2 linked regions of the Homo sapiens genome follow. The protein of the gene in region 2 interacts with the protein of the main gene of each other region in a pairwise test. Each region holds a gene or a part of one and is shown on either strand. Other genes may lie near its edges.

Region 1 (3,749 bases), on a different chromosome or scaffold from region 2:
AGCGTGTTAAATCATAACGTTGAGGGTAATGGTGTTAAAATAGTCACGTTTGCCAGGTGCAGTGGCTTACACCTGTAATCCTAACACTTTGGGAGGCCAAGATGGGCAGATCACCTGAGCCCAGGAAAGAGTTCGAGACCAGTTTGGGCAACGTGATGAAACCCCACCTCTACAAAAATAAAAATAAAAATTAGCCAGGTGTGGTGATGCATGCCTGTAGTCCCAGCTACTCAGGAGGCTGAGGCAGGAAGATCGCTTGAGCCCAGAGGCTGTGGGTTAGCCGTGAACGCGCCACTGCACTCCAGCCTGGGAAAGAGAGCAAGACCCTGTCTCAAAAATAATAAAACTTCAGGCCGGGCGCGGTGGCTCACGCTTGTAATCCCAGCACTTTGGGAGGCCGAGGCGGGTGGATCTCAGGAGTTCGAGACCAGCCTGGCCAACATGGTGAAACCCCGTCTCTACTAAAAATACAAAAATTAGCCGTGCGTAGTGGCAGGAGCCTGTAATCCCAGCTACGCGGGAGGCTGAGACATGAGAATCGCTTGAGTCCAGGAGGTGAAGGTTGCAGTAAGCCGAGATCGCCCCGTTGCAATTCAGCCTGGGCGACAAAAGTTAAACTCCATCTTAAAAAAAAAAAAAAAAAAAAAGGCCGGGCACGGTGGCTCACTTCTGTAATCCCAACACCTTGGGAGGCCAAGGCGGGTGGATCACCTGAGGTCGGGAGTTCGAGACCAGCCTGACCAACATGAAGAAACCCCTCTACTAAACACACAAAATTAGCCGGGCGTGGTGGCGCATGCCTGCAATCCCAGCTACTCGGGAGGCTGAGGCAGGAGAATTGCTTGAACCCGGGAGGCGGACGTTGCGGTGAGCGGAGATCATGCCATTGCACTCCAGTCTGGGCAACAAGAGCGAAACTCCGTCTCCAAAAAACAAAACAAAACAACTAAATTTGAAGTGCAACAGTTTCTTCTCGTTTTTCCAGTTTTACAGAAAACCCAAAAGAAGGGCAGCTAAGGTGGATAATGATGCCTACCACGCACCCTAAGAGTAGGTAAAGGGGAAAAAATGAAATCCACGTGGGACTGCGAGTAGTTTTCGCCTTTTCCCGAAGACGCACACAATGCGCTTAGGTATACCTCGCGCAGAGGTCTCTGCAGAGAGGAAAGCCACCGTGAGAAGAGCGGGGAGCCCCCAGGCAAGAAGGCAGTGGCTTGTGTGTAGTGAACCGAAATGCGACACCAAGGAACTGCAACAGGATTCTCCTTTCCACTTGAAATGTGACTCCCAGCGAGACACCTACCCTTGACGCTCCCTGGACAGTGCGGCACGGTCGGGCCCACTAACCAAGGCAATTTGCGCCCGACCGAATCAGGTGCTTCAAAATCCCCCCTGGTGAGCCGCGCGTTAACCACACATAAAACAGTCAACGCAGAAGGAGCGAGAACGTTCGGCCGAAAAGCCCGGCACAGAGAAGGGAGGGGTGCTGAAAGCCGCGGACTGCAGCCGCTGGCCTGGCTGCCGCCCCGAAACAACGCCCACGCCCGGGAGAAGGGCAGGCTGGCGTCCAGGTAGGACTCCCTCAGGCCGCCCCGCCAGGGGCCGCGCCGAGCGGAGCGGCTGGACCCCAACCCTGCCGGCCGCCGCCGAGGTGCGCAGCCCGCAGCCCCACACCCACGGCCTTTGCAACACCCCAACCGTTGAACTGCGCCCCTACACGCCCGGCGTCTGCGGCTCCCAGGCCGGTGCCGATGACGTCAGACTTACGTCAGGCGTGACGCCACGGCTGGGAGGAGTGAGGACGGCGCGGGAGGGCGTTTCCGGAGCACGCGCCGGGCGGGGGCCGCTGACGTCGGGCTCAGGTGCGCGCGCCCGCCCGCACGGCCCAGTTGGCGGCGCGCACTCCAGGTGGCGGCCGGCTGCGGTGAGGGGACCGCCAGCGGCGAGCAGTCCCGGCGGCCCTGGGGTCTGCGGCCGGGGGCGCGGCGGGAGGGCGTCTGGGCCTGCGCTCACGTGACGGGCGGGGAGGTTTGTGTAGGGGCTGCGAGCCGGGTGGGCGCGGGCCCGGGAGCGCGAGGCTGACTGTCCGGCCCCACCCCTCGCGGGCCAGCCCTTCGCCGCGCGGAACCTTCCCTCGGGCAGGGGCCGGCCCCGCCGCTCACTTCCCGCGCCCGCTCGCCGCTGACCGGAGTTGTCTCCTCCTCCGCAGGGCCGCGGCCAGAGGGCTAGAATCCGCGCCTTCCGAGGGAGCCGCGCCCTGCGGGCCCCACCGTACCCGAGGGGATGGAGGGCTGCCCCCGAGGCCCCCGCGCGGCTCGCGGTCCCACGCCTGCCGGCCCGCGCTAGCTACTCGACTCGTGCGCTAAATTTATCCGTCACCCAGGCCTTGTCTCCCGAGTCATTGGCGTCGTGGTTCAAAAGAAATGGAAGAAAAGGAGCGATGTGACCGATTGTGTTCGGTCCTCCTGCTTTGAGGCCTGGCATTTGCAGAGGGAAACAGCAAGAAAATCGTGGGGATTTTGGAGGGGGGTGGGAGGGAAGGGTGGGGAAACGGAAACAAGGTCTTACATTTTATGTGTTTTTTTAAATTCTGCACTTTGACAGTGGTAGCAAAATAAAAGTAATCCAAAAGTTATTTTTCTATTGAGAAGAGAGAAGAGGTGGGTTTTATTTTTTTCCTTTTGATTCCAATCTTTTCTCCCAGTGACAAAGCATAAATCATGGACACCAGAGAATAAGGTGGACCTCAGGAATCCGGAAAAGACTGAGAAGCTTACATTCTTCCTCTAGAGGGAAGAGTGGGGTGTTTATAGCCATCTCTGGAACCTAAAACAAAAAACATGAGTTGTGTGCCATGGAAAGGAGACAAGGCCAAATCTGAATCATTGGAGCTGCCCCAGGCAGCACCCCCACAAATCTACCATGAGAAACAGCGCAGGGAGCTTTGTGCCCTCCACGCCCTCAATAACGTCTTCCAGGACAGCAATGCCTTCACCCGGGATACGCTGCAAGAGATTTTCCAGAGGTAGGGGACCCTTCTCCTTGGCATCTTGATACTGATATTTCTGGATTTCTGTGGGTGGGGCAGTGTCTCAGCTTCATAAACCTTCAAAGCTGTAGGTATTAGCTAGATTGCGTTAGCAGGTATAAGGGACACAAGACATGAAAAGATAATCACTACCATTTATCAGGCACTTACGGTGGGCTAGGAAAGTACTCATAGCCTCAGCTGTGTTTTCTTGAGTGATCTTCAACAGTCCCGTGGAATACGTGTTAATATGTGATGTTATTTCCATTTTACTGATGAAGACACATTTAGTTCAGTACCTCGCCCAAGATAACAAGACTTGGAGCTGGGGTTGAATTCTTATATCTATGCTGTTGACCACTATGCTATAATGCCTGTAAAGCTCTGCTGCCGAGGAGTTTACAGTCTAGAAGTGGGACTAGATACGTACACGTTCAGTCACCTGTCTTTAAAGGTGGAATGTGGTGGGTACCACAAGCAAGATGTATAAACAATGCTCAGCTTTTCTGTGAGGCCATGTGCTGGCAGTAGTGCTGTTCGTACATTGCTTTGTGAAGCTCTCCCAACAGTCATTTCACTGCCTGTATTATGCTGATAGGCAGAAAGGTCAGGTAATATGTCCAAATAGCTTCTAAATAGCAAAGCTATAATTTGAAGTTGACTCCAGATCTCTTCTTTCTCCTTTATTCTAGATGGCCTTTCTTACCCACTTAGAACAAAT
Region 2 (3,749 bases):
GGAGTAGCTCCCCCTCCCTCTCTTCCTCCTGCTGGGGAGTCTTCACCCCATTTGGCATATGGGGAAGTTAAGGCCCAGAGCCCCTATCAGCCACAAACACACACCAGCTCCCAATCCATGCCAGGCTGAGGGAACACTTCTCAGCTGCCACCCAATTCATCAGGGCTCCCTCTGGGAGGGCCCGGACCAGCATCTCAGGGGCATCAGGGTAGACACAAGCACCCAAACCATCCTGTTTGACTTCCCTTTTTCTCTTTTTGGCCTGTCAGGGGACGCCTGCTGGCTCAGGCCTGCTTGGGACTGGCCCAAGTGATCACTGCAAAGCTGATATGGGCAACTCCTTGTGGCAGCAAAAAAGGGAGGGAGGGCACCCCTATTTCGGAGACTGGAGCAGGGGAAGGGAGAGAGGATGCACGGAGGTGAGGAGTCAGGCCCAGCCTGAGGCTGAGCCACCCCCATGCTCCCCACAGCCACCCAGGTCCCATGGTAAGCAGCCTCTGTCAGGAGGAACCACCTCCCTCCTCCAAAATCGGCTCCCCACCCCCTAGGACAGGGGAGGACTGCCCATGGAGTGCCAGGGGGGCTGGGACTGTGAAGTCGTGGGGGTCTGTGACTCGTATGTGAGACTCACAGTGTGTGGCACTCCCAGTGTTTGTGATTCCAGGTATTTGAGGAGCACACGCATGTGAGAGACACATGTGTGATACATATGATGGAGATATGCATGTGATAGCTACCCCTGTGTGGCGGACGTGTGTGCGTGTCAGAGGGCAGTAAGGGCACATGTGTTTATCAGAGACACAACTGTCTGCTAGAGGCATGCCTCGGAGGGGTGCCAATGTGCAAGGCATGTGTGTGTGGAGCATTGTGTGCTAAGGGGACGTGAGATGAGTGTGAGAGATTCTGGCCTGGGGGAGCTGGCGGGGTGAGCATGGGGCTGGGAGAGGGAGGATGTGGTGACAGGCAGGGTGGGCGCGCCAATGCAGAGCGTGCAGAAACTTCTGCTTGTGTGAGTGCGTGTGTGGCGGTGAGTGTGACTTGGGGGTGATGGAGGGGGTAGTGTTAGACCAGGGACTCTAGTCTTCTTTCCCCGAGGGGGTTGACCCGGCCCTCTGGACTGGAGGGGCGGCAAGGTCCTGCGGTCGGGGTGGGGGTGGGCAGTGGGACCAGAGGGGATGACTGGTGGGAGCCGGCCCAGGGGGGAGAAGTGAAACCCAGAGCGGAGGAAGCTGCGGACCTGGGGTGGGGGAACCCGCCCGCGGACCCCTGGCCCCCACCCCGCGCCGGCCTCTGTGCCCGCATCTGTACACTGGGTCGCGGCGCTCGCGGGCCGTCCCCGCGCTGGGACCGGGAGAGCGAGACCCGGTCGGACCGGCGGCGCGGGTGGAGGCGCGGGCAGCCCGCGAGGCGCGTCCGAGGGTCCGCCGAGCCGTCGGTGCGTCCGAGCGCCCCCGAGTCCTGAGCTGCGAGGCGCGGACCGACGGGGATGAGTCCGGGCGGGAGGGGCCGCGTGCACTCACCGCGGGGCACTGCGCTCGGCGTCCGTCCGTCCGTCCGCCCGGCCGTCGGCGCGTCGAGAGCCCGGGCGGCCCCTGGCTGTGTGCGCGCGGGGCGGGGCGGAGGCGCGAGAGGCGGGACCAGCCGGCCCCCGGCCCCCTCCCCTGACTCCGCCTCCGCCTCCGGGGCGGGGTCTCGGCCGCCCGCCGGAGAGGGGGCCGGGCCGGCGCCGCTCGCTCAGAGCCCAGACTCGCTGACCCGGCTCCTAGAGGCCGCCCGGCGCGCTCGCTGCGGAGCCCGCACCCTCCCTGCGCCCGGCCTAACCTCTGAGTGCCAGACCTGGCACTGCTGCCCACAGGGCAGGGCCAGGGGTTGGGGTCCGGCCACCTCAGCCAGCCTGAGCCTCAGTGATCACCCCTGGAAGATGGGCCCAGCAGCCTTGGGCACATTGTGAGGGCCTGAGGGGCCCGGCTACAAAACTGCCCAGAGGCCAGGCCCTGCCTCCCACCCGCCTTGCTTCCTACCCTGGGGGCCTGCCTGCAGCCCCACTGCTGCTGCATGTGCCTGGGCAGACGGTACTGAGCCCCCAGCTTTGGAACAGGTTCAGTTTGTCCTTTTCCTCAGCCCAGCTCTGATGCCTGTGACCACTGTGTGACCCCCGGGGTGTCTCTTCCCCCAGCCCACACCGATCCCTTTCTGGGTCTCTTTCGGGGTCTCCATCTCTGATCTAATGTCATCTCTCTGTCTCCCTTGGTTTGTCCCTCTTGGTCTCTGCATCTCCCTCTGACTTTATCTCTTGGTCTCTGTGTCTCTCTGAGTCTCTCCCATCCCTGTCCAGAGACGTATGGCCTGGTGGTCACCACCTCACATCTGAGCAGCAGCCATGGGCCCAAAGTGTGCCTGCCCCCACCCCCAGGGGTCTCCCTGCAGCCCAGGACAGGGGTGAGGCAGCCAAGAGCAAAGGCACAGGGCAGGGCAGCTGCCTGCCCAGGGCCGCACAGCAGAGAGGAGGTGGAGCCAGGAAGGGCCCATTGGCTTAGATGGGGCCACCCACAGAGAAGCCAGGAGCGGATGGAGGGGCCAAAGCCTGAGCTGGCAGCCTGTGCCTGGCCTGCCCCAACTTGTGTCTAACCCCAGGCAGGTGCCTTCCCTCTGGGCCCGTTTCCCCATTGGAGCTCTGTGCTTGCTGTTCCCTCAGGGCCTTTGCCATTGCTGTTCCCTCTGCCTGGGATGCTCTTCCCCAGATCCACCGTGGCTGACTCATCCCTGCATTAAGATGCAGCTGAAATCCCACCACCCCCAGAGAAGCCCTCCCTGAGACCCCAGCAGAGGTAGCAACTACCACTCTCCACCCTGGGACTCGGCCGCACTGTTATTACAGTACTTGTCACTGGCTGATTTCTCTTATTCATTTATAAATGACTATAGGTAGGATCACCTGGTCATTAAGAAAGTCACCACACACCAGCTGTGTGACCTTGGGCAAGTTACTTCACCTCTCTGGGCTTTATTTCCTCAACTGTAAAATGAACATAACGACATCAAAGCCTATCTTATAATGTTATTGGAAAGATCAAATGAACCGAAATGAGCCAAACCGAAAGTACAGATGCTCCTCGATTATAATGGGATCATGTCCCCATAAACCCATCGTAAATCGAAAATATAGTAAGTTGAAAATGCATTTCATCCACCTAACCTACAGAACATCATAGCTCAGCCAAGCCTACCTTAAATGTGCTCAGAACACTTCCATTACTAGCCTACGGGTGGGCAAAATCATCTAATACAAAGCCTATTTTATAATGAAGCATTGAATATCTCATGTAACTCATTGAATACTGCACAGAAAGTGAAAAACAGAATGATTGCCTGGGGATTCCAAGTAGGGTTTCTCCTGGGTGTGTACCACTTTCTCAACATCCTAAATTCAAAAAATCCTAAATCGAACCATCGTAAGTCAGGGATTATCTGTACTTTGGATGGGACTTGACCCAAGGGAGTGCTCAGTAAATATCTGATGAGTAAATGACAGATTGAATCCTTCCTCCTGTGGGGGAAGGAGGGGCAGTGGCCTGGGGTGATAGAGACCCTGGGCAGCTGCTAATGAGGCTCCCTTCCCCAGGCCTGGGAGGAGAGGCACTGAGCCAGATGCAGCTCACTCTGCAGCCCAGGGAGCCCAAGGCCTGGCCCGCCTTCCACAAGATAAAGTGGAGACACTTCTCCCGTCCTGTTATCTGAGCCGGAGATGC

What was found.
Region 1: the proteins of FBLN2 (region 2) and JOSD1 interact in binary tests that used the Homo sapiens proteins (3 or more experiments, as listed by UniProt).

The regions. Positions count from the first base shown.
Region 1 is NC_000022.11:38,699,079-38,702,827, reverse strand, and holds the start of JOSD1 (josephin-1), read left to right. Parts: upstream 1-1,884; 5' UTR 1,885-2,028; exon of another isoform or gene 2,029-2,209; 5' UTR 2,210-2,840; coding exon 2,841-3,025; intron 3,026-3,749.
Region 2 is NC_000003.12:13,546,980-13,550,728, reverse strand, and holds the start of FBLN2 (fibulin-2 isoform a precursor), read right to left. Parts: upstream 1,605-3,749; 5' UTR 1,521-1,604; intron 1-1,520. UniProt on the Homo sapiens protein: Its binding to fibronectin and some other ligands is calcium dependent. May act as an adapter that mediates the interaction between FBN1 and ELN.